4 linked regions of the Homo sapiens genome follow. The protein of the gene in region 1 purifies or fractionates together with the protein of each later gene. This does not show direct contact. Each region holds a gene or a part of one and is shown in the gene's direction. Other genes may lie near its edges. The genes, in order: PDPK1, AGRN, SERPINA4 and GPC4.

Region 1 (6,692 bases):
TGGTGGTGGTGGCCCTGTGTCCTGAGCAGCTCCGAGGGGCCGCCCAGCCCTCTAGGCTCCAGGAGATGCCGTCAGCACTGGCCTCTGAGGCCTGTTGTTTTGTGTTTTGGCGTCAGGGTTTATTTGCAAGACGACGACAGCTGTTGCTCACAGAAGGACCACATTTATATTATGTGGATCCTGTCAACAAAGTTCTGAAAGGTGAAATTCCTTGGTCACAAGAACTTCGACCAGAGGCCAAGAATTTTAAAACTTTCTTTGTCCACACGGTGAGTCTGTTCCCAGGGATTTCTGTGTGCAGGGTAATGGGAGGGCTTTGCACCACGTGGGAAGCAGCCACAGGCCTTGGCCAGAGGGAGCAGCGGGGATCGGGGCAGCTGCCTCGCCCTTTCCGACATCCCAGACGCCCACACTAGTGGCTCAGTCCTGAGGGGGCAGGGGACACCCTGTGCTTGTTTTTCAGTTTGGTGGTGACTGGGGGTGGTGGTCATCAGCCTGTGTAGTTGCTTACTGCTTGTGTGAATAACCGTCACACCCACGTGCTTTCAGGACTCGGAATGGCTGGTCGCAGGCAGCTCACCAGGTTGGGGTGGGGGTTTTGGTGGGACTCCCTGGAGAACACTAAACGGCTTCTGTCTTCGCAGCCTAACAGGACGTATTATCTGATGGACCCCAGCGGGAACGCACACAAGTGGTGCAGGAAGATCCAGGAGGTTTGGAGGCAGCGATACCAGAGCCACCCGGACGCCGCTGTGCAGTGACGTGGCCTGCGGCCGGGCTGCCCTTCGCTGCCAGGACACCTGCCCCAGCGCGGCTTGGCCGCCATCCGGGACGCTTCCAGACCACCTGCCAGCCATCACAAGGGGAACGCAGAGGCGGAAACCTTGCAGCATTTTTATTTAAAAGAAAAGAAGAAAAAAAACACCCAACCACACAAAGAACAAAACCAGTAACAAACACAAAGGAATTCAGGGTCGCTTTGCTTGCTCTCTGTGCTCCGTGGAGGCCTCCGTGTGCCCTCGTTGCCGTGGGGACCCAGCTCCATGCACGTCAACCCAGTCCCGCCCAGACTAGTGGACAGACCTGGTGTCACCAGTTTTTCCTAGCATCAGTCCGAACCATGCGCCCGCCCTGCCCCAACTGTGTGCTGGTCCTGCTGTGGCCGAGGGGACCGGGTGTGTTTGGCTCTTTATGCCCCTCCCGCTGTGGTCCTGGAACTCTTCACCAGGGAGGGAGCCCTGCGGGGGCCGCAGCTTTGTGGAGGGAGCCGCCGTGCTTCTGTCACCTGCTCCCTTTCTTGCGTCTCCCTGTGATGGGCCCTTAGGCCTGGCTGGGCCCATTACATATCCCTGTGGTGGCTCTGGTGGCAGCTTTCTGTGGCCCCTGCTGTGTTGGCAGGCAGGTTTGCGTGGTGAGGAGCGGGAGGGGTTGGAGTGGTGCGGGAGCAGGCTGCCGAGTGGAGGGTGCCATCGAGGGCTCCGGATCCCTTATCCTACTTAGCAGTGTTGGTCTCTGGGGCTGGAAGCCGAGCGCATGCTGGGAGCGGTACTGTCAGAAGTGAGCCCAGTTAGTACCCCGCTGGCTCACTGCACGAGAGAGTCCTGCCCCGAGCCCTAGGTGGGGCCAGGAGGTGCCTTGGAGAAGCCAGCCAGAGCAGAGAGGGCTGCTGACTTCCGTGTGGAGCAGAGAGGCCTGAGGGCCTCCTAAAAGGTTTAAATGTCCACGCCTCTCCAGTTGCTGAAGTAGGGTCTGAGAGAACCCTGGCATCAGCAGACCCAGGGTGCTTCTGTCTCCTGCAGACCACGCCAGGGAGTGCAGACACCACCGTCACACACGCCCCTTTTGTGTTTTGGTTCAAGTTTCTCAGAGCCCCTCAGAGCTTCTACATCTGTGCATCAGAAATCTCACAGCCTTCTCATGCTGCCGGCTCATCTGGGCCCATAGAGTGGGCTTTGCCAGTTGCTGTTGCACAGGAGGCGAGAACAGCACACTTCAACCCCAGCTTGCTGGTCGGCTTTCCTCTAGAGAGAGCCGGTTTTGGGGCCATTTCCCTTTGATGCTTTGGTGGCCTTGCCCCGCTCTGCAGCACAGACAGGCCAGATGCATTTGTCCTTTGCCTAGCTACTCCCCAGGTAGAGAGTGCTCCTGGTGGCCTGGCAGGTCTGGGCCCTTCTCTCCCTGCCCAGGTTGTCCCTGGAGGGCAGCCCTCACTCCCTTTGGGGGAGAGGCAGACATTGCTGCCCACAGACCTGCCTCTGACTCAACTGTGTCCACCCTCCCTGGTCCCTACCCCCAAGTCACAGGTGACTCAGCAGTGACCCTGTGTGCCAGGCCAGATCCAAACTGAGAGGGAAGGTGTCGTTTTTACACTGCTAATGACGAGAGTGGCTCTTTTTAGCTAGGCGAGTACAGACGGGGCCTGGGAGGGGGCAGAGATGTTCCCCAGGCCCTGCCTGTGGTTCCTGCCTGGGCCTTGGCTGCTGCTGTGTGAGAGCTGCATGTGAGCCTGTGACCGTGAGCTGGGGTGAGCTGGGCCGCACCTACCCTGGGGCCCCAGGGAGCAGGACGCTCCGGGGCCCAGCACGTTGCCCTGGGCCTGTGGCCGGAGTCGGAGTCCTCTCTCCTCCTCCTGGCTTTTGGAAAGGCTTGGCTGTGTTGGGGAGTCTCTCTTAGCCCTTTCAGGAATTTCTGTTCAGGCTTCCTCCTCCTCATCAGCTATTTTACCCATCTCAGAACGTCCTGTGTCTCCATGTAGGAGAGTGGCTCTCTCAGATCTCTCAGGGCGTCTGGTTATAGGGAAACAAGTGGAGCAGGGACGTGGCTTTAATTGGAGCACTCGGCTGGGCTGCTTGGGGAGACTCTTCCGTGCGTTCTTCCTCTGGATAGAACCACCACCTCCTGGGCGTCACTGACAAGCTCCATCTTAACCTCCAAAGCCACAGAACTAGGGGCTCAGAGCCAGAGCTGGCAGCCGCCAGCCAAAATGATGCCATTGCCTGAGCTGACAGCCAAGCCCTTCTGTGGGTCACCTTTCTCCTCACCCAGCCCCTTGCTCTTCCCTTTTGAAAGGCCCGTGTGTTTTCTTTCCTTACCCTGTGCTTGCTCATGTCTACTCCGGTTTTCTCTACCACATCCTTAGAGCCATCACCTGGCACGCAGGCGCCTTACATTCTACGGTAGAACGTGGGGTACTGTGTGTGCACATAGACACACTTACGTGGAATTACAGTTGTGGGTTTATCCAAGATGAGGAAGATTTCACCTGCTGTTTAATAGACTTGGGGCCATGTGCCTCCCCACACATGGGCAAGGACAGGTGGAATGTCGGGACCACACTGTGCGGCTTCTCGGCACAAAGCGGAGGGAGGCTGTGGTCGCTGCCGGCCTAGGTGTCCCAGGTGCCCCGCCTTTCTCTGGGACACAGTTGGGGGCTGGCTTCTGAGGGATTCCTTTCTCCCCTCTTTGTGTGGCCCCAGCCAGGGCGGTGGGCAGTCCTGGTGTAGAGCACAAGCCTCTCCACCCTAGAGAAATGCCTCTGTACCACGGCTACCATGTGGAACCTTAACTTGCAGAAGGCTTGTTAACAATTGTTTTGAGAGAGATGGCTGGTCATGCCACAGCTGCTGGGGACTCCGCCTACTCCAGCCCTCTTGGGACACACTGTGGGATTTGTGGCCCTTCCCCAGAGGAATTGTGGAGACTGTCCCATGGAACAAACCCTCAGGCACCAGCACAGGGCTCTGGGTGACTCAGTAAAACTAACGTTTGTCTCTGACAAGATCAGCTGTAGGCTCACCGGCCAGAGAAGACCACTGTGAGCATTTTGCCGTATATCCTGCCCTGCCATTTGTTCACTTTTTAAACTAAAATAGGAACATCCGACACACACCGTTTGCATCGTCTTCTCCCTTGATATTTTAAGCATTTTCCCATGTCATGAGTTTCTCAGAAACATGTTTTTAACAATTGTACTATTTAGTCATTGTCCATTTACTATAATTTATCTGACCATTTCCCTACTGTAAAATACTTAAGACGGTTTCTGATTTTTCCACTATTTAAATAATGCTGTGATGAATATCTTTAAAATCTTCTGATTTCTTACTTTTTTCCCCCTTAGATGCCTGGAAGTGGTATTTTGAGGTGAAAGAGTTTGTTCATTTTGAAGATATTTCTGTCTCTCTCTCGACCTGATGTGTAGACGCTCACTTCCAGTAGCAGAACCACCTTAGTTGTGTCTTACAGATTCTGAACAAATCGGTTTCTGATAAGCCATGTGTTCCAAAGAATGTCTGAATAAGACCGCTCTTTATTTAAATGCTAAGAGGATGTCACTACTGCAATCCATCTGTGGCCGATTTTTTCCAAGAGCCAATTTCCTTGTTTTGGTTGCAAGAACCTGGCTCTGCCTGCATGTCAGCTCTCTGCCCTCCCTGCTGCCGTGGCTTTCAAGCGCTTGGCAGAATCTTGTACTTCGTGTCCACAATGGTACTGAATTTGCATCTGCACAGTCAGCAGAGATAACAAGTGTTGAACTGACCTTGCCACATGCTTAGTGAGTGATTTGTAATTAAGTTTATAGACTCAGAAGGTATATTAGGACATTTGGAATCAGTAGCAGAGCAAAGCCTCTTTGAAAAAAACCACGTAGCTGATTGGGTTTTACAAGAGTGCATTTGTCTCCCCCTTCCACCCGTGGGGCCCCACCTTCAGGTCTTAGTGGTTCACAAGAGCCCAGCAGCCAGGCTGGCTTTTTCATTGTAGGGCGTGGTTGTCCCAGCTGGTGTAGATTTCAGGCCGCCCCCCCCAACTCCCTGCCCACAGTGTTGCAGATTGCCTGGCTGGCAGCAAGTCCAGACCACCCAAATTTGGTTGGATTCTTCATTTCTCCACTGTAGTTGGGGTCCATTGATTGTGCAGGGGAACGTGCAGGAGGTTTTTCTAGGCACCGTGTTCAGTGCTGCTTCACTCTACCAGAGATTATGGCCAAATTGCACGGAATTTGGTTTCTTGCCCTCTGAAGCCTGAGGGCCCCCCCTTGCCTGGCTGGTTGACAGACCCGGGGTGGTCACTGCTGAGACTTCAGAGATCGCAGCTGCTGTGAGAATACGGTGAAGGTACTTTGTTCTGGAAGATGTTGTCATACACTTTTCCCCAGTTATTTTCAAACTTGACATGAGCCTATGTTGACTCACTGGGTGGGGGTCCCTTCTTACGCAGCACACGTGGCAAGTGCCTGAATCGGGGCTGGAGGCACTTCAGAGCCTCTGAGGGGCCACCACTTCTGGCCCAAAATTGCAGGGTTGTAGATGAGGCTGCCTGTGGAGAACTGGTGTGAGGAGGAAGCTGTTTCCAACAAAGAGCACTTTCATCTGTTGAGATGGCTGTGGTGAGCAACTGAACGAGCCTACGTGTGTACCTGAATTTTCCCCGTAACTCATTTCTTCCATATGAAGAAACACCAAACTATGTACAGAGAACTTTTTACAAAAGGCAGACCTTTTTTAAGCTGTGTAACCCACATAGCCTAACCACCTGGCAGAATGACTACGAATAGGGGTCATTGTGCTGGTAAAAGCCTCTATTACGACTGTAAGTAAGTTGGATGTTGGCAAAATTAAATTGTTACAGTATTTAGAGCTGCTGTAGCTGTTCCTTCACAACATAAAATAGGATAAATGACTAGTACGTCTTTCAGGTGGGTGGCAAGCAGAACATGCGTAATATTCTCTACCTGGTCTGTAGCTGTAACTGTGATGTACAGACAAAGCAAAAATTAAAAGAACTTATGAAAACAAATGCAATGATACTAGGATATACACTTTTGTATTTTTATTCTTATATAAGGTTATTTGCTGGCTATTGTTGGCCTCTAGTTCAGTCTGTGTTATTTAAATTCTAATATATGAATTATTTGAATTGAATTCATGTTCGGGGCCACGTTGTTGTATGTATTGATGTACAGCCTTGAATGTGAATAATTATTGTAAACTATATTTTACAACTTTTTTTCTGGCTTTATTATATAAATTTTCTATTGGGTCAGTGATTTAATCATATAATTTAATGAATCTGTTTATCCTTTTTTTTTTTCCAAATACTTGTGCTTTAGGTGTAGTTACCAGATGATGAATTTTCCTCGTATGGTCAGTAGTCTTGTAATAAAAAGCATGTAGAGTGTAGAGGTTTGCTGGCGTGGCTCTTCCTTTGACCCCGCCACGGAGTGGGGGCGCGGTTGGGGGCGGGTGTCTGCCATTGCCCGCTAGCGTTGGCGCCCCAAGCTCGGTTTCACTCCCTCCGGAAGTGGGACCAGCCGGCTGCTTTTCCCGGATGGAACTTCCGCCTGCCATGTGACCGGCGGGTGTTCTACAAGGGCTGACCAGTGGGCGGGACAGAACGCAAAGGGCGATATTAAAAGCCGGACTCTTCCGGTGAAGCGGAGGTGTGGTGGGGCTTGCTGGGATCATGGCGGGGAATCACTGCGAGCTCCTGCCGCTGGCCCGTGGCAGGCTCGGGGCGGGGTTGGGGTGGCTTCTTGTGCCTCCCTTAAAGCGCGGGGCTCAGCGTCCTGGCCCAGCGCCCCAGCAGCAGGTCCAAGTGGGTCCGGCTCTACAGCGGCGGCACCTACTTCCTCACCACTGGGCAGACGCCGCTGTGTCAGGACCCGAAATCCTTCCTGTACCTCTTGAGCC
Region 2 (7,024 bases), on another chromosome or scaffold:
ACCCTCCCAGTGGGCTGGGTCCTGGGGAGGAGACAGGTCTATGCAGGTCTATGCTGGTGGCTGGGGCCGGGCAGGGCCAGGGCAAGAACTGCGTTTCCACCACCTGTGAGCCAGAGGCCTGGAGCCAACTGGATTTAAAGAGGTGCTCAGGTGGGAGGTCCCCTCTCTTAGCATCCTCAGCCTCGTTTCCTGACACCCAGAAGGCTGGGGAGTGTCTCCTTTTCTTTACACACTGCCCCCTTCACCTGGCCACAGCCCACCCTGCCACAGAGTCACGGAGGGCTCCACACCAAGGCCATCGTGACCCACATGCCACCTAACTGTGGTCATAGTTACGGGCCAGAGCTCACAGCAGGGCTGGGGCATCCTCTCCATCCCCCAGCCTACCCAGGACCAGGAAGGGAGTTAAATATACCCGCTCCTATAAAAAGCACTGCCGCCTCCAGCGTTGCACACAGTGGGAGGACCCGTCACGCTGCGGGAGAGTGGGTGGGGAGGCCGAGTGGCCGGGGAGGGGCTCCTGCAGGAGGTGGAGCTAAGACAGGCGTGGCAGGACCCCCAAAAATGACCCATCGGGAACACAGGGCTCTCAGGGTCCTAGGTGTGTCACCTGCATCTATGAGGGGCCATGTGGGCAGGTGACCGGAGCACAGATGTGTCTGAGCCCAGTGCTGGCATTTCTAGCAGTGTGGCCTTGTCAGGTGGCCTACCTTCCTCCTGCCAGCTGGCAGGGGAGACATCTCGGGGCGTGGCTGCTGCAATGCGCTGTGCCTGGCGGGTACGTGCGTGTGTGCCATCACCACGTGCACCTGTCTTCAGGTGATCTCGTGTGGAGCCTCTATGATCCCCTAGGCCTGTGGAGACTCAGCACAGTGGTGGGAGCGGCCCCTCACCTAAGCCCGCAGTGTGAGCGGAGAATGGGGGGGTGGGGCTTCCCGGAGGCCGTGATTCCTGAGCTCACTCTTGAGGGGCAGATGTGTTTCCAGCCTGGATGGGGATAGGAGGGAGGGACCAGCACTGTGACCTTTAAACCCTGGGCTGGCCGGCAGTGTCACACCATCAAATGCTGTGAGGGAGATCCACCCCCACTCCACAGCTGGGGCCACATTCCAAGAGGAGCGGACTCTCTGAGGCCCTGGAGGCAGAGGGGAAGGGGCCAGGACCTGGCCCTGCACACCAGATGGGGATGGGGAGCCAGTGCTCAGCCTGGCTTCAAGGTCCCGCCAGGTACCCAAGGTCTCTCCACTGCCCTGCCACATTGGTCCAGCAGCTGGTCACTCAGAGCCTGTCCCTAAGGTACCTCTAGGCTCCCATCCCAGAGCTTGCTCTCCATGCCCCTGCAAGCAGTCCAGCCCCGCTCACCCTGGTGAGCTGCCATCATCACCTTCTTCCCCAAGGCTCTGTCTTGGGACGTAGCAGGACCTCGGGCTGGACTATGGAGGGAGCTGCGGGTCCTGGTGGATGAGGAGCATGCCCGCCATCCAGGAACAGTGCCCTTGGCCATGGTGTCAGGGCCTTGGGAGAGGTCTGGCTGAGCCAAGGTGACCAAAAGGGGAGAAAGGCTCAGGAGCCCTGGTGCAGGGAGGTGACTGGGTCCTTGGCCATGGGGTTGGGACCTGGGGGGAACCATTGGTCCACAGGTCCAGCCGAAGCCCAGGAGAACAGCTGGCTGGGCATCAGCAGGTGCCCGTTGGATTTGGACTGGGAGTCCCAGGGCCTTGGACAAGGCAGGGCCAAAGGGAGAGGGAGATGCTGAGGGGAGAGAGAAGGGGAACCAGAAGGGAAGTGAAAGGGCCAGGGGTGCATGTGGTTTGAGTTTGATTTGAGCCAGGACGGGGGAAGGCCAGTGGTGATGACAGCCCTCATGACTATACTTACAGTGGCAGCAGACGGGCCACATAGCGCTGTGTGCTGGGCACCCTCTAAGCTTTGCAGATACTGGCCCATTTAACCCCACAATCCTGGGAGGTAGGTCCTATTGCTCCTATTCACCGAAGGGGATACTGAGGCCCAGGCAGGTGATAACCTGCCCACATTCTCACAGTGGGTAATGCAGAGCTGAGCAGCCTGGCTGTAAGACCTGAGGTGGGAGAGTAGCAGAAGAGGGGTGGGGGCACAGCCAAGGTTTGGGGAGGAAGACAGGGATCTGGTGGGGGGAGCATGGGTAGGTTGCAGGGATGGCAGGCGGATGGCCCTCACTCAGCCTTCTGGGGTGGGGGCAGGGACACCCAGACAGACAGCGCCAGAGCCTGGGGTGGGCTGTTGCTATAGCAACAGCTGGCTCCAGCTCCCAGTGCACCCACCCTCCTTGGAGATGGGGGGGGTTCCTCCTGCCCCATTTCACGAGCCTGCTGGGAAGTGATGGGTGGTAGCCACCCCTCTGACATGACTTATTAATGATAATTGGACCCAATTAAACATTTATTAAATCCAGACAGCTGCAGCCGCTAACGGACCCTTCCCTGATCCTGGGTGGGCCATGCTGGGGGTGGGGGTGCTCAGGATGGGCTGCCGCAGGGGCTCTGGGTTTTAACGTGCCTGAGGCAGCTTTGTTGGCCACGTTGAGGTCTGGTGATGGGACGTGTGTCAGGCGCTGTGGTCTGCAGCTGTAAGAACTAAAATGAGCAACAGTTCCTGCACCTCTCCAAGAAGGAAGTTCGCTTTGACAGAGAGTGAGGGCGATGGAGGAGGCAAGAGTGAGGTGGGGGGCCGGGGGATGCCCAGGGAGGAGGGGGCGTGTGGGTGCCCCAGGGATCCCAGGGAGCGATGGGAGGCTGCAGAAGGGCACAGGCCTGCCGCGGGTGGGGGGCTGGCCAGGGAGAATAGGAGATAGTAGAGGCGGAGGCCAGGAATTTGCACTTCTCCAGGGAAGCTGGGGAAGAGTTGGGGAGAGGGAGGCAAGAAGATTCCCCACCCATCTTAGGCGCAGGGAGCGGTCAGGGAGGCGCCAGAGGTGGGCCAGAGCTGTGACCTGGCCTCACACCCCGTCCCGGTGGGGCTCTCAGGCCCCTGAGGGCCAGACGCGGGACCTGGGTGCGACCCGGGCGGGAGGCGGCAGGGCTCAGCTGTGCTGGACGCTGCAGCAGCGCGGGAAGGGGCTCCCCCGGCTCCATGGGGTGAATCGGTGAGGGGCTCCGGTGCCGATGTGGAAGGAGCTCCTGAGCAGAACTGGGGCCTGGACTGCTTGTGCCCGAGTTGGTTTCGAGGCGTCTCTGCTTTTCGCTGGAGGCCCACGAGGTGGGTGGGAAGTGGGTGCTCGCCCGTCGCAGAAACAGAGTCGGGTGCCGCCTGCGGCAGACGCCCCTCTCCGCGCCTGCAGGTGCGGGGTGGGGGAGAAAGGTCATCCCTGGAGAGGCCCGGGGCTGGCGGGAATCCTCGGCGGGCGGGGTCTGCGAGGGGCAGGGCCGGTCCTGTGAGCGCACGCACGCGTGTCCGTGTCCGTGGTGGACCCCCGATGCGGCGCGGGGGCGGGTGAATGCGCGGGCTGCGAGCACGGCAAGGTCTCTCAGGCTTGTGGACGTGGGTACGGGCGTCTCGGCACCCTGAGCTTTCTCCCCTACCCGCCCCAGCGTGCCGGGGAATGCTGTGCGGCTTCGGCGCCGTGTGCGAGCCCAACGCGGAGGGGCCGGGCCGGGCGTCCTGCGTCTGCAAGAAGAGCCCGTGCCCCAGCGTGGTGGCGCCTGTGTGTGGGTCGGACGCCTCCACCTACAGCAACGAATGCGAGCTGCAGCGGGCGCAGTGCAGCCAGCAGCGCCGCATCCGCCTGCTCAGCCGCGGGCCGTGCGGTGAGCGGGGCGGGGCCGGTGCCTGGGGCGGGGAGGGGCGGGGCCTATGAGATGGAGCGAGGCTGGGAGGGGCTTCGGGGCCAGTGGGGCGGGGGCAGGGGCGGGGCCCGGCGGGGAGGAGCGGGGCTGGGAGGGGCCTGGGGGGCGGAGCGGGGCGGGAGCGGGGGCGGGGCCTGCGGGGCCCGGCGGGGAGGAGCGGGGCTGGGAGGGGCCTGGGGGGCGGAGCGGGGCGGGAGCGGGGCGGGAGCGGGGGCGGGGGCGGCCCGTCTGACCGGCAAAGCCCCGCCCGCAGGCTCGCGGGACCCCTGCTCCAACGTGACCTGCAGCTTCGGCAGCACCTGTGCGCGCTCGGCCGACGGGCTGACGGCCTCGTGCCTGTGCCCCGCGACCTGCCGTGGCGCCCCCGAGGGGACCGTCTGCGGCAGCGACGGCGCCGACTACCCCGGCGAGTGCCAGCTCCTGCGCCGCGCCTGCGCCCGCCAGGAGAATGTCTTCAAGAAGTTCGACGGCCCTTGTGGTGAGCGCGGCGGCGGGCGCACGGCTCGAGCTCTGTGGGCGCGCGGCGACAGCGTCCTGACTCCTGCCCTCGACCCCCAGACCCCTGTCAGGGCGCCCTCCCTGACCCGAGCCGCAGCTGCCGTGTGAACCCGCGCACGCGGCGCCCTGAGATGCTCCTACGGCCCGAGAGCTGCCCTGCCCGGCAGGCGCCAGTGTGTGGGGACGACGGAGTCACCTACGAAAACGACTGTGTCATGGGCCGATCGGGGGCCGCCCGGGGTCTCCTCCTGCAGAAAGTGCGCTCCGGCCAGTGCCAGGGTCGAGGTGAGCGGCTCCCCCGGGGGAGGGCTCCGGCCAGTGCCAGGGTCGAGGTGGGCGGCTCCCCCGGGGGAGGGCTCCGGCCAGTGCCAGGGTCGAGGTGGGCGGCTCCCCCGGGGGAGGGCTGCGGCCAGTGCCAGGGTCGAGGTGGGCGGCTCCCCTCTGGGAGGGCCGCCTGCTCCCCTGCTCCCTGCACATCCCAGGGCAGGGATGGAGGGTGCTCCAGCCTCTCCGTGACTCCCTCACCCCTGCGTCCTAGACCAGTGCCCGGAGCCCTGCCGGTTCAATGCCGTGTGCCTGTCCCGCCGTGGCCGTCCCCGCTGCTCCTGCGACCGCGTCACCTGTGACGGGGCCTACAGGCCCGTGTGTGCCCAGGACGGGCGCACGTATGACAGTGATTGCTGGCGGCAGCAGGCTGAGTGCCGGCAGCAGCGTGCCATCCCCAGCAAGCACCAGGGCCCGTGTGGTGAGCGCCCCGGGGTGGAGGCCAGGCGGGGTGGGCTGCTCCTGCGTCAGTCCCTGCCTGGACATCACATGCCATCTTCATCCATCATGTTCCTCTTGGGGTCCTGGGAGTGGGCCGGTCCCTCTGGGAAGGCTCTGGGGAGGGTGGAGCCTGTGTGCGGAGGGTACCTGGATACCTGGGGGCTGGTGAGGCAGAGGCGGGGCCTTGTCCAGGCTCCCTGGTCCCTGACCTCAGCCACGCCCTCCCTGGGAGTCCTCTGGCCTGTCCGCATGTCTCCACGCTGTAAGCACAGGCTGTTGGGGTGGGCAGGCTGGACACAACACCAGGGTCCTCACTCTTGGGACATGGGCAGCCGTCGGCCGTTTTGGAGGCAGTGTCAGGACTTGAAGGGCCAGGGGGAGGCAGTGGCCGTCGTGTCCCGTCGTGTTCGTCTTGGTCAGTTCGCCCATCTTCTGGTCTTTCTCTCTGCGTCTGTCTCTTCTCTTTGGTCTCTTCTTCCCTGTCGGCTCCGCCTCTTGTGTCTTCCAGCCTGACCTGCTGGCAGGATGAGGTGCCGTGCCTGCCCTCCAGGAGCCCGCAGCCCGAGGTCTGCCCCTGGTGCGGCAGGGGGGGTGGCTTGCTGCTGCCTGGCCTTGTGGTCCTCAGAGCAAGTGGACAGACACCTCCTCCCCCGTGCAGCCCTGGGTGTGACTCTGGGGGTGCAGGCTCCTCCCACCCACAGAGAGCCCCCCCACATGCATGGGTGTCCTGGGGATGCTGGTGGTCAGGGGTCAGTGGCCTGGGCAGGCTGGGGAAGCCTGGCCCTCCCATAGCCTGCTGTGGACAATCAGGAAGCCCCAAGCTTGGGGGCAGCCTCGCCCGCAGCCACCGGGGACTCCTGGGTGTGTGTTCCGCTCGCCTCTGCCGCGTGTCTGTCCCTTTCTCTGCCGTGTCTGCTGTGCATCTGGCCCTTCTCCTGTGTTCTCTCTTCCTCCACCATCCCCTCCCTGGAAGAGGGACTGCTGCGTGGGGCTGGGGGCTTTGCCTGCAGCGGAGGGGGGGCTTGTGGGACCACTGAGCCCCTGTGTCCTTCCCAGACCAGGCCCCGTCCCCATGCCTCGGGGTGCAGTGTGCATTTGGGGCGACGTGTGCTGTGAAGAACGGGCAGGCAGCGTGTGAATGCCTGCAGGCGTGCTCGAGCCTCTACGATCCTGTGTGCGGCAGCGACGGCGTCACATACGGCAGCGCGTGCGAGCTGGAGGCCACGGCCTGTACCCTCGGGCGGGAGATCCAGGTGGCGCGCAAAGGACCCTGTGGTCAGTGGCGGGTGAGGGGTCTGGTGGGGGTCGGGGAGAGAGAGGTTCCTGGTCGCCTGGTGATGGAAGCTCCTCCCCAGACCGCTGCGGGCAGTGCCGCTTTGGAGCCCTGTGCGAGGCCGAGACCGGGCGCTGCGTGTGCCCCTCTGAATGCGTGGCTTTGGCCCAGCCCGTGTGTGGCTCCGACGGGCACACGTACCCCAGCGAGTGCATGCTGCACGTGCACGCCTGCACACACCAGATCAGCCTGCACGTGGCCTCAGCTGGACCCTGTGGTGAGTGAGGCCCTGGGGCCGGGCGGGCCAGGGTCCTGTGCCTCCCTCAGCCTGGGCCTGCCGACCCCTGCCTGGCTCTGTCTCCTGCAGAGACCTGTGGAGATGCCGTGTGTGCTTTTGGGGCTGTGTGCTCCGCAGGGCAGTGTGTGTGTCCCCGGTGTGAGCACCCCCCGCCCGGCCCCGTGTGTGGCAGCGACGGTGTCACCTACGGCAGTGCCTGCGAGCTACGGGAAGCCGCCTGCCTCCAGCAGACACAGATCGAGGAGGCCCGGGCAGGGCCGTGCGAGCAGGGTAGGCCGGGGGACGCTGGCGAAAACTGCTGGGCTCTGGCTTTGGACAAGAAGCCCCTGGGTGACTCTGCTCCCCTTCCCCGCAGCCGAGTGCGGT
Region 3 (7,838 bases), on another chromosome or scaffold:
TTTCCAGGCAGTGGGCGAGCAGGTCTTGGGAACTTGCCCCAGGTTACTCACCTCCCAACTGCGAAAGAATAGGGCTTTGGTTCTTCCCCTACCTGTGGAGTCGGCACACTGGATTCGCACCCTTCCCCAAGTTCTGGCCAGCAAGCTTCTTGCCCTGTTCAAATTGTTACAAATTTCAGCTGGAGACTTCCTTCTCCCTGTGGCATTTTGCCCCACACCTCTGGCCACCCTCCCAAAGGGCTCCTGTGGTGCCATGCAGGAATGGCCTGCTTGAGATCCAGCAAGCTCCCAGGGCCTTTCCCCCTGCTTCCTCTACCCCTGTATTTCGCTTGGCTCTCTAAATCGACTCAGCTCCAGGTAAGGTCAGAAACTTCTCCCACAAACTACACCTTCATTTTCCCCAGTGGGGGTGTGTGTTTCATAGCAGAAGGTCTCCCTTTCCCATTTCCGCAGTTTGGGTACTCACAGTATTTGGGGGATCTCCTGGGTCCTGCAGAAGCAGTCCACTTCCTTCAGAGGGTCTGTGTGTCCTCTCAGGATTCCTGGTTTGTTCTTGAAGTCATTCTGACACTAAAATTCACCATGCAAGCCTCCGCATGCTGCTCTGTCTATCCAAGTCAGAGCTGCAATCTAGTCTTGCCTCCCATCCACCAGGATGATCCTGAATGAAGTCTAATTATTGTTTTTTATTCAACTGACCCTAACATAGGACTTGTTCTGTGCTAAGCAATGTGCTAAGCTGTGAAAGTTAGAGGGAAGGACACAAATTCAGGAAGAAAAAGGAATAAAACACTGTGCTTGCTTCCTAAAAACCCATAGTCCAGCAGGGACATCATATGTGGTAGTCTGAAAGCATATCCACTTTGAAGATGACTCTAGTCTCAGTTCCTGTCCAACTGCAACCTCATAAGAGACCCTGAGCAAAAACCACCCAGCTGAGCCCAGTCAACCCCCAGAACTGTAGAGATAGCAATAATAATGACAAACAACTGCCATTGTTTTATGCCGCTAAATTTGGGGTGGCTTGTTTCCCAGCTATACATAAGTAGGATGTATGTGTATCCTGTGTAACTATGTATCTAAAAGCCAGATAGAAAATGATGAGTTTAAGAGAGGGACAGATAATTAGACGTAGAGTTCCTAGAGAGGCTAAACAGCCCACCTACACCTTTTAGCATTTCCAGGCAAGCATCAAGCCCTGAGCCCCTCTAACTCCAGGGATACATATTGTGTTGCATGAGTGTTTTGTTGAAGCTCTGCACTCTTAAGATAACATGGGGGAAGCACTTCTCTCCTTCCTCTTTGTAATTCCTTCTCAGTCTCCACCTCTCAACACCTTTCAGTCCTCTTTCACATGAGTAAAGCATTTAAGAATCAGGAGACCTGTTCTTGACCACCTACTCTGGAATTTTTGCATGGAGCTCTCTTTGGACTGTAGCATCTATAGTCTTCCTACCTCCATCCAAACCAAGACTGGAAGAGCTTTGTTGTTGCTGTTCTGTATGAGCACATACCCATTTCTTACAAGACTGGAAGGAAACCAATTATATCTAGTCATAAGCTGAACACCAGGTTTGCAAATGATTTTATTTTCTTCTCCAGGTTTTTTTTACTTTCCCATATTTTTCATGATGACCATTATTGCATTGCCAATCAAATTCAAAACAAGGACAGCCTTTTTAAGGGCAGATTAATTTCCTGGCTCCATTTGGAATCCAGGGAATGGGAAGGGGATTGGGAGCAGTTAGCAGGAGGGCAGCATAAGTGGAGCCTGTGCTGGAATGGGAGACCAAGACAGCCATTGAGAAAGGGCTGGGTTGCAATTTAGGATGCAGTGGAGCAGAGGAGGGTGTCAGGGAGTGGGATTCATGCCTACAGCACAGTTCAGGCAGTTTCTGGGATGCTGGAAAAAGCGGCTCCCTGCCGGGGACATCAGTGGTGTCACAGCAGCTGCCCCATCTGGCCCAGTGGTATTTCCTAGGGGCAGAGAGGCAGTCAAGCCCTCTGCTTCCCCACATCCACCCTGGCCTTCCTGGTCAGGCAACTTATCCCTGCTTCCTTAAATCAGTACTTGCCGAGAGTGTTGCAGATTTTAGGAGCTTGCCACTGGAACATCTGAGCAGCACCTCTGAGCAGGGCCTTTGGCATCTCTTCATTCATTCATTCATTCATTCATTCATTCATTCAATGACTGACTTCTGTTAAGCATCTTCTATAGGCCAGGCCTGTTCTAATGTGCCCAGATATGACTGTGGCACAATTCATTGTCCTCTGGGACCTTACAGATGATTAACAAGAAACACTTGGCCTTCAAATTGTAACAGGCAAGGGTTCAACAATCCTGAAGCCCTCCCAGAGACCTTAAGACAAGAAGCAGGCAGGACTGAGGCTGGAGTTAGCAACTGAGCCCAGCCTGCAGCCACACCAATTGCCGTCATTCCCTCCTTCTCCTGCAGGGTCCAAGTCAGTAGCTCCCACTACATGCCTGAGAGTTCTTTCCACCTTTCCTTTATATGGGCCTGCTCTTTGCAGGAAAAAATAACTGCTGTAGCCCACGGGGACTGCATGGACTTCATGGGATTCAAGAATCTCCCTAAATTGTAAAACATACATCTGTGCATATTTCAGGGAGAGTTCAAAGCTTTCTTGAGATAATCAGGACCACAACTCAAAACAAGTTTAACAACATGGTTTCAGCCATGTGTACACCTTTGGGGATAAATGAGTAATGTACAACCCATCTGAAATAATACGACAGACTAACTCACGCTTCCACTGCACTCACTATGGCCAGATGCTATTCTAGGACTTTACAGATGTCAGTTTACTGATCTTGTTGACAACCCTGAGATTTAGGGGCAATTATTACCCACAGTTTACAGATGAAGACACTGAGGCAGAGTTAAGTAACTTAAGTAGTGGTGGAGTCTAGATTCAACCCAGACAGTCTGGCTGTCCACCACTGCTGGGATGGGAAGGGAAGAAGGAAGCACCCATTAAGACTGATACAGGGCTCAGAACATTTAAGAGTGCTGCCCCCCTGCCCTTAATATCAGTTTTCTGATTAGTGATTATTGCTTCTCATTTGACACGTGAAAAACTGAGGTTCAGAGAGGTGGAGTGACTTGCCCAAAGTCACAAATCTCAGCAGTGAGGGAGCTTGTCTGACGCCAAAGCCCAGCCTCTGTCCAGAACATACCAGGGGCAGGCGCCAGAAACTAAAGGGCAGTGACTGTGTGCTCATGGCAGGGACAAGCTGTCCATCCCCTGGGCTGCAGCCAAGCATACGCTAACCCCTGGAATCTGTGGCATCAGCCCCAAACTCACTGAAGAAGCAAGACTAAAAAAGCAAAACCCCAGACTGTAGACCATTGTAAGGGGAATAATGTATTTTCACATTCATCAGAGCAAAAATCCATGGCCATCTTTCACTCATTGACTTACTCAGTCAACATCCATGGAGCATGTCCCCTGCACCACATTCTGCTCTAGCGCGTGGTACAGCAGTAAGCAAAGCAGCAGCTGCTATTCCGGTGGCAGGAAAAGTCTGTCCAAGTGGAGAAGCAGCAGATGCTGGGAAGGAATATGGGCTTCATGTTCAGTGGCCACGGAGCAGACCCTGACTCTGGAATCTGAGCTAACAATGTCTCCGGGCTTACATTTTCTCATGTGTAAAATGGGCCAAGCTTAGTATACCTAGAGTGTATAGGCAAGGGAAAGAGAGAGATGAGTGAGGGAAAGCGAGAATCCACTGAGACAGTAGCTCTCACTTTGCCTGACCTGCTAGCTTCCTCTCTTGTCCTGGTGTTGACCCATTTTGGACCTCAGGCCAGCTGGCTCCAGGGCTGTGCTTGTGCCTGCTCTGCCATCCCCATGTCTACATCGCTCAGGGCTCCCAGCCCACTGTGCTGCTCAGTGGTGTATATTTCACTTACCTTAAGGCCCAACGACTTGGAAACACATCCAGAAAGTCTGCTAGAGGATGCCTGAATGGTCAAGGTCATCTCAGTCAGGGCACCCAGGGCCACATTGCTCCCTGCAGTCCTTCCCCACATAGCTTGAGAAATGGCTGCCCCAGGAGGGTGCAAGGGTGCAAGGGTGCAGGGGTTCACTGATTACTGGGGAGAGAACAAGTTCAATTCCATGGTTAAAGAAGAAAAATGCAAATTGAATACCTGGCCCAAGGAGGTTCCTGGTCCCACCCCATGCCACCCTTGCCCTGGGATGTACTCTCCTTATGGTCTGACCTATGAGATCTCAGTGGACTCTATCCTCAGAAATCACAGAGTCCAGGATTGCAAACTGGAGGCCCTGCTGTGAGGCCCTGCCCACAGGTGGGTCTTGCCTGGCCTGTAGAGAGCTGGCTCTCTCACTTCCACACATCCCCACCATTCCCCACCGTGGCACCATGGAGTCTTCCTTACCTGATCTAGGAAGGCGGCGCTGGAGCTTGCTGCCCCCTGTCTGATCCAGCCCCTCATGTTGTAGGAGGGAGGTGGGCGACTGAAGCTCAGAGAGGGAGTAAATGAGCTCAACTTCACACAGCTAGTGAGGGGCTGGTTGGAGACCAGATTTTCCAAGTGGTTCCCCGGGCCCTCGGGGAGCAGCAAGGGCCAGGCGAACCTCCATGCACTGCACAAACATGAAGAAGTGAACCCTCTTGGGGTTCCCCAGGTGGGAAGTGGGGTGTCTTCTTGGGAGGGGGTGAACCAACTTCTGGTGAGTTTTCCTTGTTGAGGCAATGCTGCACCCGTAGCCTGTTTGTTAATAATTACCTGGTCGGGAGAGAGTGGGTGGTACTGAGAAGGCCTGGTTTGACCAGTCCTCCTGGGCTTGATAAGACAGAGCTGAGACAGCCACCCAGGGGGTCCACTCCAGGACAGACTGTGCCGTGAGTAACCCCCTGAGACAATGGAGACGAGAGACTCTAGAGGGAGGGTGACCAACTGTTCCACTTTGCCCAAGACTGATAATTCTTCTGGGATATATTTTCAGTGCTAAAACCAGGAAAGTCCCAGGCAAGCTGGGACACTTTGTCACTCTTGCTAGAGGTGAGAAATACTCAGGCTAGAAAGGCCCCGACTTAGGGTCCATGGGCACTGGTGGGTGACTATGCCCGGAGACCCAGAAAAGCCTCCCCCAGGGACACACAGCTGGTACAGGGCGGCACTGACTGAGGGCCAAGGTCTTCTGGCTGCCAATCCAGGTGATCTTGGGGAGCTCATGCCGGAGGGGAGGTGTGTCTGTGAGTGATGCGGTCCTATGTATGTTTCTAAATGATCCCTCCAACTGCTGAGTGGAGAACAGAGAGCAGAAAGACTAGGAAGCTTTCTGCAAGGGTCTAGGTCAGGGGTCAACAAACCACAGCTTGTAGGTCAAATCCGGCCCACCGCCCATGAGCTAAGAATGCAAGATGTAAAATATAAATATAAAATATAAGTGATAAGTATAAAAGATAAATATATAAAGCTATGAAAAATCAATAGAAGAACAACATTTTGTGACACAGGAAAATAATATGAAATTCACATTTCAGTGTCCGTAAGTGAAGTTTCACTGAAACACAGCCACGCCTCTTCATGCATGTCCGGTCTGTGGCTGTTTCCAGCTGCCACAGCAGAGTTGGGTAGTGGCAGCAGAGACTGTGTGGTCTGCAAAACCACAGATATTACTATCTGGCGCTTTGCAGAAAAAGTTTTCTGAGCCCTGGTTGAGGATCATAGCAAAAGAGGGGGCGAGAGGCTGAAGAACCTACAGGAGAGTCTAGGAGTTGGAGACCAGCTTGGGCAGCATGGTGAGACCCCAACTCTATAAAAAATTAGCTGGGTGTGGCTGTGCATGCCTGTAGTTCCAGCTACTTGGAAGGGTGCATGCCTGTAGTTCCAGCTACTTGGAAGGGTGAAGTGGGAGGATCACCTGAGCTCAGGAAGTCAAGGCTGCAGTGAGCCATGATTACACCACTGCACTCCAGCTTGGGTGACAGAGTGAGACCCTGTCTCAAACAAACAAACAAACAACCAAACAAACAAAAAAAACCCAACCCTGCAGGTCATGGAAGTGGATTAAATGGATTTTGGGTGGATAGAAGCCTAGAAGCTTTTTGGCCTGACAACCGGATACTGGTGGGACCATTTGATGGGGCAGGAGCAGATTTGGGGGAGAAACTGGAGTATCCTTTCTTGGACAGATGTTCATTATGAAACGGGTACCAATTCTATCCCCACAACTTTGGGCAGGTCACTTATTAAACATCCATGTCCTTGTCTGTACGGGGTAACAATACAAAGACCAGTTCTACTGACCTCTACAGGGGTGGGAGGGTCAAACTAAATGGCTGAAAGTGGTTTGTAAACCATATAAAGCACTCCACAGATGTTTGTGGAACAGACCCTAAAATAAACTCTGAGGATAGCCATCCTCCATGCAAAATCACTGCACTAATGAAATCAACTCATCTGAAAGACAAGTGTGGGAGAAGCAGCACCTGAGTCTGGGGATGTGGGTTCTGGCTGGGATATGTGCTAGGTAGGTGACTTGGGTGAGTCACTTTGGGAGTCTTCATTTCCTGCTCTGTTGGGTGAGAATGGAGTCTAGTGCTGTGCAGAGCTCACACAGGTGGGAAACACAATGACATGATGGACACAAGGAGTGTGCCTTGTAAGTCTAAAACATTGCCATCCAATAGTGTTGCTGTCACCATACATGTGGAAGGTGGTGGGTGTTACATTGCCTTTCACAAGCCCATCTGCAGGAGTTGAGGGTGTCACTCACGATCTCCGGGTGCTGGCCCACTGCCAGCCTTCTCAGTAGGGCCAGGTGTTCTTCTGGGGGAATTTCCTGGGCATTCTCTTCCCTCCCATAGGCCTGAGAGTGCAGAGGATGCATCTTATCGACTACCTGCTCCTCCTGCTGGTTGGACTACTGGCCCTTTCTCATGGCCAGCTGCACGTTGAGCATGATGGTGAGAGTTGCAGTAACAGCTCCCACCAGCAGATTCTGGAGACAGGTGAGGGCTCCCCCAGCCTCAAGATAGCCCCTGCCAATGCTGACTTTGCCTTCCGCTTCTACTACCTGATCGCTTCGGAGACCCCGGGGAAGAACATCTTTTTCTCCCCGCTGAGCATCTCGGCGGCCTACGCCATGCTTTCCCTGGGGGCCTGCTCACACAGCCGCAGCCAGATCCTTGAGGGCCTGGGCTTCAACCTCACCGAGCTGTCTGAGTCCGATGTCCATAGGGGCTTCCAGCACCTCCTGCACACTCTCAACCTCCCCGGCCATGGGCTGGAAACACGCGTGGGCAGTGCTCTGTTCCTGAGCCACAACCTGAAGTTCCTTGCAAAATTCCTGAATGACACCATGGCCGTCTATGAGGCTAAACTCTTCCACACCAACTTCTACGACACTGTGGGCACAATCCAGCTTATCAACGACCACGTCAAGAAGGAAACTCGAGGGAAGATTGTGGATTTGGTCAGTGAGCTCAAGAAGGACGTCTTGATGGTGCTGGTGAATTACATTTACTTCAAAGGTGAGAGTCAGATCATTGGTATATGCTAAATCCACACCACCGCCTCCAACCCACTAATTTGTTGACTGGTTAAATATATTTTTACAAAAATGTAAGTAAAAACGTTGTGTCTGATAGGGTTGAGCAACCCTCAGGGAATGCAATGTGAGAATGTTGTATGTTGAAGACTCTGTAGTATTGAGGTTTCCATTCCTTCCTATCTTTAGACATATTTTCTTCATAAAAATAATGTATAAAATGCATTATAGCCAGTGATCATTAGTTGAATTGCTGGATTCATATCTGAGCTCAGCCTCTACCAACAGTGCAA
Region 4 (7,952 bases), on another chromosome or scaffold:
AATAAAAATAAAGCCTAAGGCCAGGCGTGGTGGCTCAAGCCTGTAATCCCAGCACTTTGGGAAGCCTAGATGGGCAGATTGCTTGAGTCCAAGAGTTTGAGACCAGCCTGGGCAACATGGCAAAACCCTGTCTCTACAAAAATATAAAAATTAGTGCAGTGGTGTGTACCTGTGATCCCAGCCACTTGGGAGGCTGAGGTGGGACCATTGCTTGAGCCTGGTAGACGGAGGTTGCAGTAAGCCGAGATTGCACCACTGCACTTCAGCCTGGGCAACAGAGCAAGGCTCTGTCTCAAAAATAAATAAATAAATAAATAAATAAATAAATAAAGCAAGGCTAGAAGACATCTTGGAGGCTGGTAGTGGAGGAACTCTCAAAGAAAATGTGGCCTCTGCTAAGGAGCAAGTGTTGTAGTCATTTTATGCAGACAGTGCTTTGGAGGCCTAAAAGGAGGAGGAGGGGCTAGCTCTGCTTGGAGGAATCCAGGAAAGCTTTCCAGAAGATGTGACTTCTCAGCTGAGTCTTGAAGGATGAGTATGAAAGAATTGTCCAGGAAATGGAGGGGAATGAAAGGATAGCATAAGAAGGGGCAGGGTACAGGTAGAGAAATCCATGCAGGACGGAGAATGATGACACATTCTTGTGGGGCCAGAGCACAGGATACAGGATAGGGAAGGGCCAGTAAGAAAGTTGGAAATGTAGCCTGAGCAAAATGGTGACACCCTGTCTCTACAAAATACAAAAAAAAAAAAAAAATTAGCTGGGCATGGTGGCATGTGTCTGTAGTCCCAGCTACTCGGGAGGCTGAGCTGGGAGGATCGCTTGAGCCCAGGAAGGTGGAAGCTATACTCTAGCCTAGGCGACAGAGCCTGCATCAAAAAAAAAAAAAAAGAAAAAAGAAAAAGAAAAAAAGGTGGGGGGGCAGGCACAGTGGTTCGCACCTATAATCCTAACACTTTGGGAAGCCGAGGTGGGAGGATCACTTGAGCCTGGGAGTTCAAGACCAGCCTGGGCAACATGACAAAACGTCTCTACAAAAATCAGCCAGAAGGACATTGTCCAGAAGATGTTGTCAAAGCCTCACTCTGATGGCTGTGTGGGGAATGGGCTGGATACAGGGAAAGACTAGAGGGCTGCAGGCCAACATCTTACCCTAACTAAGGGAGGGAGCTCCCTTCCTTCCTTCTTTTCTTCCCTCCCTTCCCTTCCCCTCCCCTTCCCTCCCCTCCCCTCCCCTCTCCTCTCCTCTCTTCCCTTCTCTCTTTCCTGAAACACGGTCTCATGCTGTCACCCAGGCTGTGGTGCAGTGGCGTGATCACAGTTTACTTCAGCCTCTACCTCCCAGGCTCAAGCAATCCTCCTGCCTCAGCCTCCCAAGTAGCTGGGACCACAGGTGTGCACCACCATGCCTGGATACTTTTTATTTTGTTGTAGAGACAGTCTCACTATGTTGCCTAGGCTGGTCTTGAACTCCTAGGCTCAAGCAATCCCCTTGCCTCGGCCTCCTAACAGATATGAGCCACTGTGTCCAGGCTTGGTTCTTCCCAGCCCCATATTTGGAAATCAGGGTAGCTCCCCAGCAGGCCATGAGAAGTGTCCTCAAAGCTGAGAGAGTAGACCTGGCTCAACCAGTTCTCTTGGATTGGAGGACAGAAGCATGGGAATGCATTCTTTGTTCTCTCTGCCCACCAGCAAATGTACCCTCCCCCTCCCAGTGTCATATCAGGGGAAACTCCTGACCTGGGAAAAACAAGTATACCATTAGTGCATTCTATCTAAGCAAGCCTTTGCACACCGTTTATAAAACTGTAAACTCCTTTTGGCTTATACATCTTCCCTTCCTCTAGGACTGAACATTGTCAGGCACATAGGAGGTGTTCAATGAACATTTATCAATCTAAAACAAAGATACTTCCACAGGACCTTGGCAGTTGTACATTCACTGCTGACAGTAAAAGAGACCCAGAGCACTGTGTTCTCTGACCAACAACAACAACCACAACAAAAATAGCATGGGATTTGGTCAGAGGCCTTAGATTTCAGTCTTGGTTTAGCCACCCAAGAGCTCTGTGGCTGTGGAGAAGCCACAGAACCTTGCTGAGACTTGGTTTGCTTATCAATTAAAAACAAACAAACAAAAAACAAAATATTCTAAGATATGAGGGTGCACCTGGAAGCACTGTGCAAACTTGTAAAGTGCTATATGAACAAAATGTGGTATATCCGTAAATGGAACATTATTCAGTCATAAAAAGGAATGAAGTACTGATACATGTTACCATATGGATGGACCTTGAAAACATGATGCTAAGTGGAAGAAGTCAGACACAAAAGCCCTGTATTGTATGATTCCATTTCTACAAAATGTCTGGAACAGGCAAATCCATAGAGACAAAGCAAATTAGTGGTTTGTAGGGACTGGAAGGAGAAGAGAATGAACTTTGAGTGCTTAATGGGTATGTGGTCTCCTTTTGGAGTGATGAAAATGTTCTGTAACTAGTGGTGATGATTGTACATTATGATTGTACTAAATGCCACTGAAGTGTGCATTTCAAAATGGTTAAAATGATACCAAATTGCGTATGTGTGTGCTTTTTACCACAATTCTAAAAAGCAAAAAAAAAAAAAAGTTATATGACGGTTAATCAGCCTGAGAAGTCATCGATTTTTGCAGTCAACATGCAGTCTCTATTTTTTGGCGTTGAGAGAACTTACAAGGAGTAGGTGCATCTCCACTAAGAAGCCTCTTCTGAAGACAGCAGGGATGGGAGTGGGAGAGGGAAGAAGGAGTTCTGGCCCATCTGAAAAGAAAGCTTCCCTTCTGGATGGTATTTGTTTCGTAGATTGCCAGTTGTTCACCCTGTTTGTATTTAAATGAAAGGAGGCTTTGAAGTGGGAGCCGCCTCTGAGCACGGCTTGGGGTTCCTGCCTCCCTTGGTAAAGTTCAGACTTGTCCAGATCTGTTTGTAGCCAGAGGTTACTGTTTCTGGTGGAAAAGGCTCAAGTTTGGGTTAATAATACATTATGAGGAAGAGCAGGAGTAAACCTGGGGAGGGCGGGGGCGGCGGGGGGGAGCGGCGGCAACGAATGAGTTCCTCCCAGCCTTGGTGTGAGAAGTAGCTTTCTGATTTGGCCTTCATGGTTCAGGAGTATCATTTTCTCTCTTACGGTCACTGGCTTCCATTTTATAATAATGCTCGTTGCATCTCAGAGCATATTCTCCTTGGTGAAGAACATCTTTAAGTAAATGTATCAATCAATGAAAATTAAAAGTGCTCAGCTAAGCCCTAGCAATGCCTTCAGGACTTGATGGTTACCAGTTTAAGGAAAGTCTTGAAAATGGCAGGAAATTCAATTGTAGTTGAGTTTGCACATTAAAAAAATTGCTCTCCTAGTTTCAGAGTTAAATATTCAGCCAGCCCACAGAAATTGGAAGTCACAGTTATAGACGGGTCACAGTCTGTTCATGTTGATAGTCTGTTAACAAAATGTAGAAGAGTCTGCAAGCAGGTATTCAAAATAACAGCTCCTCATAGCCAGCCATGTCAACGTGGTTTACAAACAACAGTGGAGAAAGTCTCAACAAACCCTCTGAGGGTGATAACTGTAATGATGGTTCGTATCTTTGCCCTATGTAATTTTATGGGAATTGAGAGTCTAGCCAAATAATAAGTTCCAGCCCTTTTTATCTGCCCAGTTCCCAGCACACTCCCGAGGTGTCTGAGGCACTTCTCAACCCAACCTCTTAAAGCAGATTGTAACAATAACAACGGTAATGACAAGTTCCCGAGCTGCACAGTTCCCTTCATTTAAGGAGCGCTGGGAGCTTCAAAAAAACACTCATTAATGGAATCTGACAAAGCTTGCAAGATGGGAAGTCTCTCCCATTTCCAGTTTTCTGGTGGAAAAGTGGGGACTGAGTCCCAGAGGGGTGTCAGTCTCTCTCAAGGGGCTTGAGGGGGTAGGGGGTTTGGGAGTCCTGGGCTACCATTATTCCATGAAATTCGAGAGTCAAGAGTCCCGGGTTCTGGACGCCCCCTTCCCCGGCGTGCTATTTACCAAGTCGCTTCCCATTTCTGGGCCCCAGTTCCCTTAATAGAAGGAAGGGTTGGGCCAAATGGTCTCCAAGATCTCTGCGGTCAACCCTGTCTTTGCCCCCTCACCTCGCGGTTGGGGGTTTCTCCCGCTTCAGAGTTCGGTTAGACTTGTAGTAGAACCGGGTCGGGGGTGGGAGTGGCGTCGAGGGGTTGGAGTGTTGCGGATGCGGGAAGGAGGATGCCTGATGGGGTCCTGGACAAACTGGTGTTTCACGAGTACCGTCCTATGGGAAGCAGGTCTGGGGAGACCAGGTGAGGCTCTAGGACGAGCTCGGAGCCCCAAATCCCCCTGCTGCCTGCAGCGAAACAATGCGAGTAATGTGCCTTCCCCGCCCAGCCCGGGAGCTGCGCGGATAGGAGCGTCCGCGGGTGCGGGATGGCAGCGGGGAGGCGGATATCGCGGCGGGAGGGCTCCGCGCGGCTTTTGCCCATAGGCGGCGGGTCAGGTGGCCGCGCGCAAGAAGGCCTGGGGCTCAGACATGGGCTTCGGGACAAGTCCCAGGCCGTCCCGTTCCCCAGAACCTGGGCCCTTCAGCCCGGAGTAGTTGGCCTTCCCTTTGTGGTTGGGGGGCGGTGGGCTGGCTCCCCGCCTCCGAGGAGGAGGGGAGGAAGGAGGAGCCGGGTGGGGCGTGTCACGCGAAGGAGCGCCGGGCGCCCGGTGCGGCCCCCTAGGAAGTGGATTTGGCCGCTCCGGATCCAACCCGGCTTCCAGGTTTTCTCCCGGCCCGGCCCAGCGTGCTCCCGCCTGTCTCCGGCCCCCCCACGACGCCCGCCCCCTCCCCCCGAGTGCCGCCCGCTTGGCCAAGTTTGCGGAGCGTCGCCGCGCACGCCGGCCAGTCAATCAGCGGCAGAGCTGAGAAGGGCACAGCCGCGCGGCGGAGGGCAGAGTCAGCCGAGCCGAGTCCAGCCGGACGAGCGGACCAGCGCAGGGCAGCCCAAGCAGCGCGCAGCGAACGCCCGCCGCCGCCCACACCCTCTGCGGTCCCCGCGGCGCCTGCCACCCTTCCCTCCTTCCCCGCGTCCCCGCCTCGCCGGCCAGTCAGCTTGCCGGGTTCGCTGCCCCGCGAAACCCCGAGGTCACCAGCCCGCGCCTCTGCTTCCCTGGGCCGCGCGCCGCCTCCACGCCCTCCTTCTCCCCTGGCCCGGCGCCTGGCACCGGGGACCGTTGCCTGACGCGAGGCCCAGCTCTACTTTTCGCCCCGCGTCTCCTCCGCCTGCTCGCCTCTTCCACCAACTCCAACTCCTTCTCCCTCCAGCTCCACTCGCTAGTCCCCGACTCCGCCAGCCCTCGGCCCGCTGCCGTAGCGCCGCTTCCCGTCCGGTCCCAAAGGTGGGAACGCGTCCGCCCCGGCCCGCACCATGGCACGGTTCGGCTTGCCCGCGCTTCTCTGCACCCTGGCAGTGCTCAGCGCCGCGCTGCTGGCTGCCGAGCTCAAGTCGAAAAGTTGCTCGGAAGTGCGACGTCTTTACGTGTCCAAAGGCTTCAACAAGAACGATGCCCCCCTCCACGAGATCAACGGTAGGTGGGCACACCCGGGAGGTGGGCGCAGAGACCGACACTTCGGGAAGGGAGGCTGCAACTCCCTTCCCCCGCCCCGCCGCCCCCTGCGCCGGACGCAGGTACACTAGAGGGAGAAATGGGCAGTCGAGAGGGCAGGAGCGAGCGAGCGAGAGAGCCAGGCAGCCCGGGCGCAGGACGTTCCCCGCGGGCGCAGCGCTCCCCCCTTCCCAGCACTGCGAGCGGAGGGGCGCCGCCGGGTTGCCCAGTGCGACTGTCGCGCTCCGCTCCCCGCCTCCGCTCCTCCTCTCCCCCCTGCATTATTCGCCGTCCCGGGAAGCCCCTGAGGACTGTGGCCCTCAAAGTGCGTGTCACCGGCTACTTCTCCTTTTCCGGGTTGAACTCCTTATAGGACGCCCCGCTTTGTTGTATGGGTGAGGAGAGGCCGGGTGGGGGTGGGGGTCGCCAGTGGGGTGTGGTGGAGGGAAACGTCCCGGAGCTTGCTAGATTCTGGGGGTCGCAAAACGTGGAACTTGAATTGATGTTTCATTGATGTTCTTTTAAAACTCTCTCCCCGCCTCTCTTGCACCGCTGACAAGGATTAGGAGTTTTAGTAGCCGCAACCGCTTCAGAAGTCGCCTTTAAAAAGCAAACGACTACCCCCACTCTCCACCCCTCCAAACCCTGACTTTTGGGAACTCTCCTACTTTCCGGAAGGTATCAGACCAGAGGAGTATTTTTCCCCTCTTTCTTTTTTCTTACCTCATTTTAAGGGTTAATTGCACTTTCAATTACAGACCTTTGAAAGGACTGATTACAGGAAACCTGAATCTCAGTTTGGAGATGGTTATGCAAATAGAGACGGCTTAGCCTGTGAGAAAGTTCACCGGATTTTGGCGCCGGTGGGGTGGGATGGGGGGTGTATGGGGGTATTTGTGAAAGCCCCTCTCGGAGCGCTGGGGAGGCAGCGTTCGGCGGGTGCCCTGCGTCCCTCCCAGCGAAGCTGGCGGCGGTGTCCGGCCGGGTCCCCTCCGGGTCGCACTGTCTTCTTAGCAGCGGCCAACTGTTGCGCGCAGCCCCGCCGGCCGCGCAGGTAGCCCGTTCGCCCTGGGGGCTCAGAAAGCACCACGAATCTAGCTGGCTGGTGGCCAGCGTAATCTAACGGAGGAGTGAGAGATTCGAGCCCGGGGGGGGGGCTGAGCCTCCACTCCGAACCTTTCATGGAAGTGAGTGGAGCGCGCCTTTGCCTTGCCGTGCTGGTCTCCGGGTGGGGCGGGCAGGGGGCCGGCAGCCAGCAAAGGAAATACTGTAATTTCAACCAGGCGCTTCCAAAGGCTTAGGAAGATTTGGGGGTCATTTTTTGGAAGGGCTATTAATAACCTTGGAGATTAAGTGCAGTCATCAATTACATATTAATTACAAAGGTAATTGAGGGAAGTTGCTGGGCACTTTTGGAGTGTAACTGGCGTCTGTCTAGAAATAGAAGCGAAGAAATTGTTGGAGCAGCCCAGGCGCCCACTGCACCTTGGCAGTTACCAAATAACATGCTCACTACTGATTAGACACTGTTTGCCCTTCAGCTGCCTGTCTTTTGGGGAGCTCAAGTATGTCCTCAAAGCGGCACGATTTTATTGGTTGTAGAGCCCTGAAAAGCCCTCTTTCTTTCCCTTCCTCCTGCCCCGCCAGAAAAAAAATGAAGTGAACCACCAGCCGCTGAAGCTTGGGGACTCTGCAGGTCAAACCTGGGGTCTTTGTGCCCTGCACAGTTTAGGCCTGGGCACAGCGGAGATGATTGGCGTGAAGGTTACAGTTGTCATTCCCACATTTTGAAGGGGTAGATGCAGCTCTGCACTTAATGGGAATGTGACAAGGTTTCATCTTCTGCTCATGCAAACAATATGTGCCTTTGATATTGACTGCAGGCATTCAGCGAGTGGGGTTGTGAAACTGCCCTCCCCAGTTTCCCCAACTTTGCTCTGTGCAGTCTTTCGCTGTGGCAGGGCATCTTCCCCAGCCAGCATCTCAGGAAAAAGGAAGCTTGAAGGGTGCTCAGAGACTCTGTGCTAGGTGTTCCCTTTGATTGTCATCATCCCCAGAAATCACCTGAGGGATATTTTGCGTATATGTCTATCTGGACATTCCCCCATGCCAAAGATAGGGGAGTTATTAGTGACCAGCAGCAGGAAATGGAAGCTAATGTGCTCACACCCAAAACATTTTATTCTTTTTGTCTTGTCCTTCATCTCCCTCCCTGGGCTGCTGCTTTTATTTCCCCTTTTGAATGACCTACTGGACTGCATTCTCCTGAGGAACAAAGGAAGTGCCTTTTTAGCTGGAATCCTTGGAAGACCACCAA

The links.
Region 2: the proteins of PDPK1 (region 1) and AGRN purify together in Homo sapiens (affinity purification with mass spectrometry; 2 studies listed by BioGRID and IntAct, with this or other methods). This does not show direct contact.
Region 3: the proteins of PDPK1 (region 1) and SERPINA4 purify together in Homo sapiens (affinity purification with mass spectrometry; 3 studies listed by BioGRID and IntAct, with this or other methods). This does not show direct contact.
Region 4: the proteins of PDPK1 (region 1) and GPC4 purify together in Homo sapiens (affinity purification with mass spectrometry; 2 studies listed by BioGRID and IntAct, with this or other methods). This does not show direct contact.

The regions. Positions count from the first base shown.
Region 1 is NC_000016.10:2,597,007-2,603,698, forward strand, and holds the end of PDPK1 (3-phosphoinositide-dependent protein kinase 1), read left to right. Parts: intron 1-116; coding exon 117-269; intron 270-644; coding exon 645-761; 3' UTR 762-6,182; downstream 6,183-6,692. UniProt on the Homo sapiens protein: Serine/threonine kinase which acts as a master kinase, phosphorylating and activating a subgroup of the AGC family of protein kinases.
Region 2 is NC_000001.11:1,037,096-1,044,119, forward strand, and holds part of AGRN (agrin isoform 2 precursor), read left to right. Parts: intron 1-3,569; coding exon 3,570-3,785; intron 3,786-4,077; coding exon 4,078-4,302; intron 4,303-4,382; coding exon 4,383-4,607; intron 4,608-4,680; exon of another isoform or gene 4,681-4,701; intron 4,702-4,860; coding exon 4,861-5,067; intron 5,068-5,081; exon of another isoform or gene 5,082-5,653; intron 5,654-6,143; coding exon 6,144-6,362; intron 6,363-6,442; coding exon 6,443-6,637; intron 6,638-6,727; coding exon 6,728-6,928; intron 6,929-7,013; coding exon 7,014-7,024. UniProt on the Homo sapiens protein: Isoform 1, isoform 4 and isoform 5: neuron-specific (z+) isoforms that contain C-terminal insertions of 8-19 AA are potent activators of AChR clustering.
Region 3 is NC_000014.9:94,556,604-94,564,441, forward strand, and holds the start of SERPINA4 (kallistatin isoform 2 precursor), read left to right. Parts: upstream 1-4,838; 5' UTR 4,839-4,891; exon of another isoform or gene 4,892-5,112; coding exon of another isoform or gene 5,113-5,206; intron 5,207-6,862; coding exon of another isoform or gene 6,863-6,879; coding exon 6,880-7,528; intron 7,529-7,838. UniProt on the Homo sapiens protein: Inhibits human amidolytic and kininogenase activities of tissue kallikrein.
Region 4 is NC_000023.11:133,412,471-133,420,422, reverse strand, and holds the start of GPC4 (glypican-4 precursor), read left to right. Parts: upstream 1-4,933; 5' UTR 4,934-5,457; coding exon 5,458-5,617; intron 5,618-7,952. UniProt on the Homo sapiens protein: Cell surface proteoglycan that bears heparan sulfate. May be involved in the development of kidney tubules and of the central nervous system.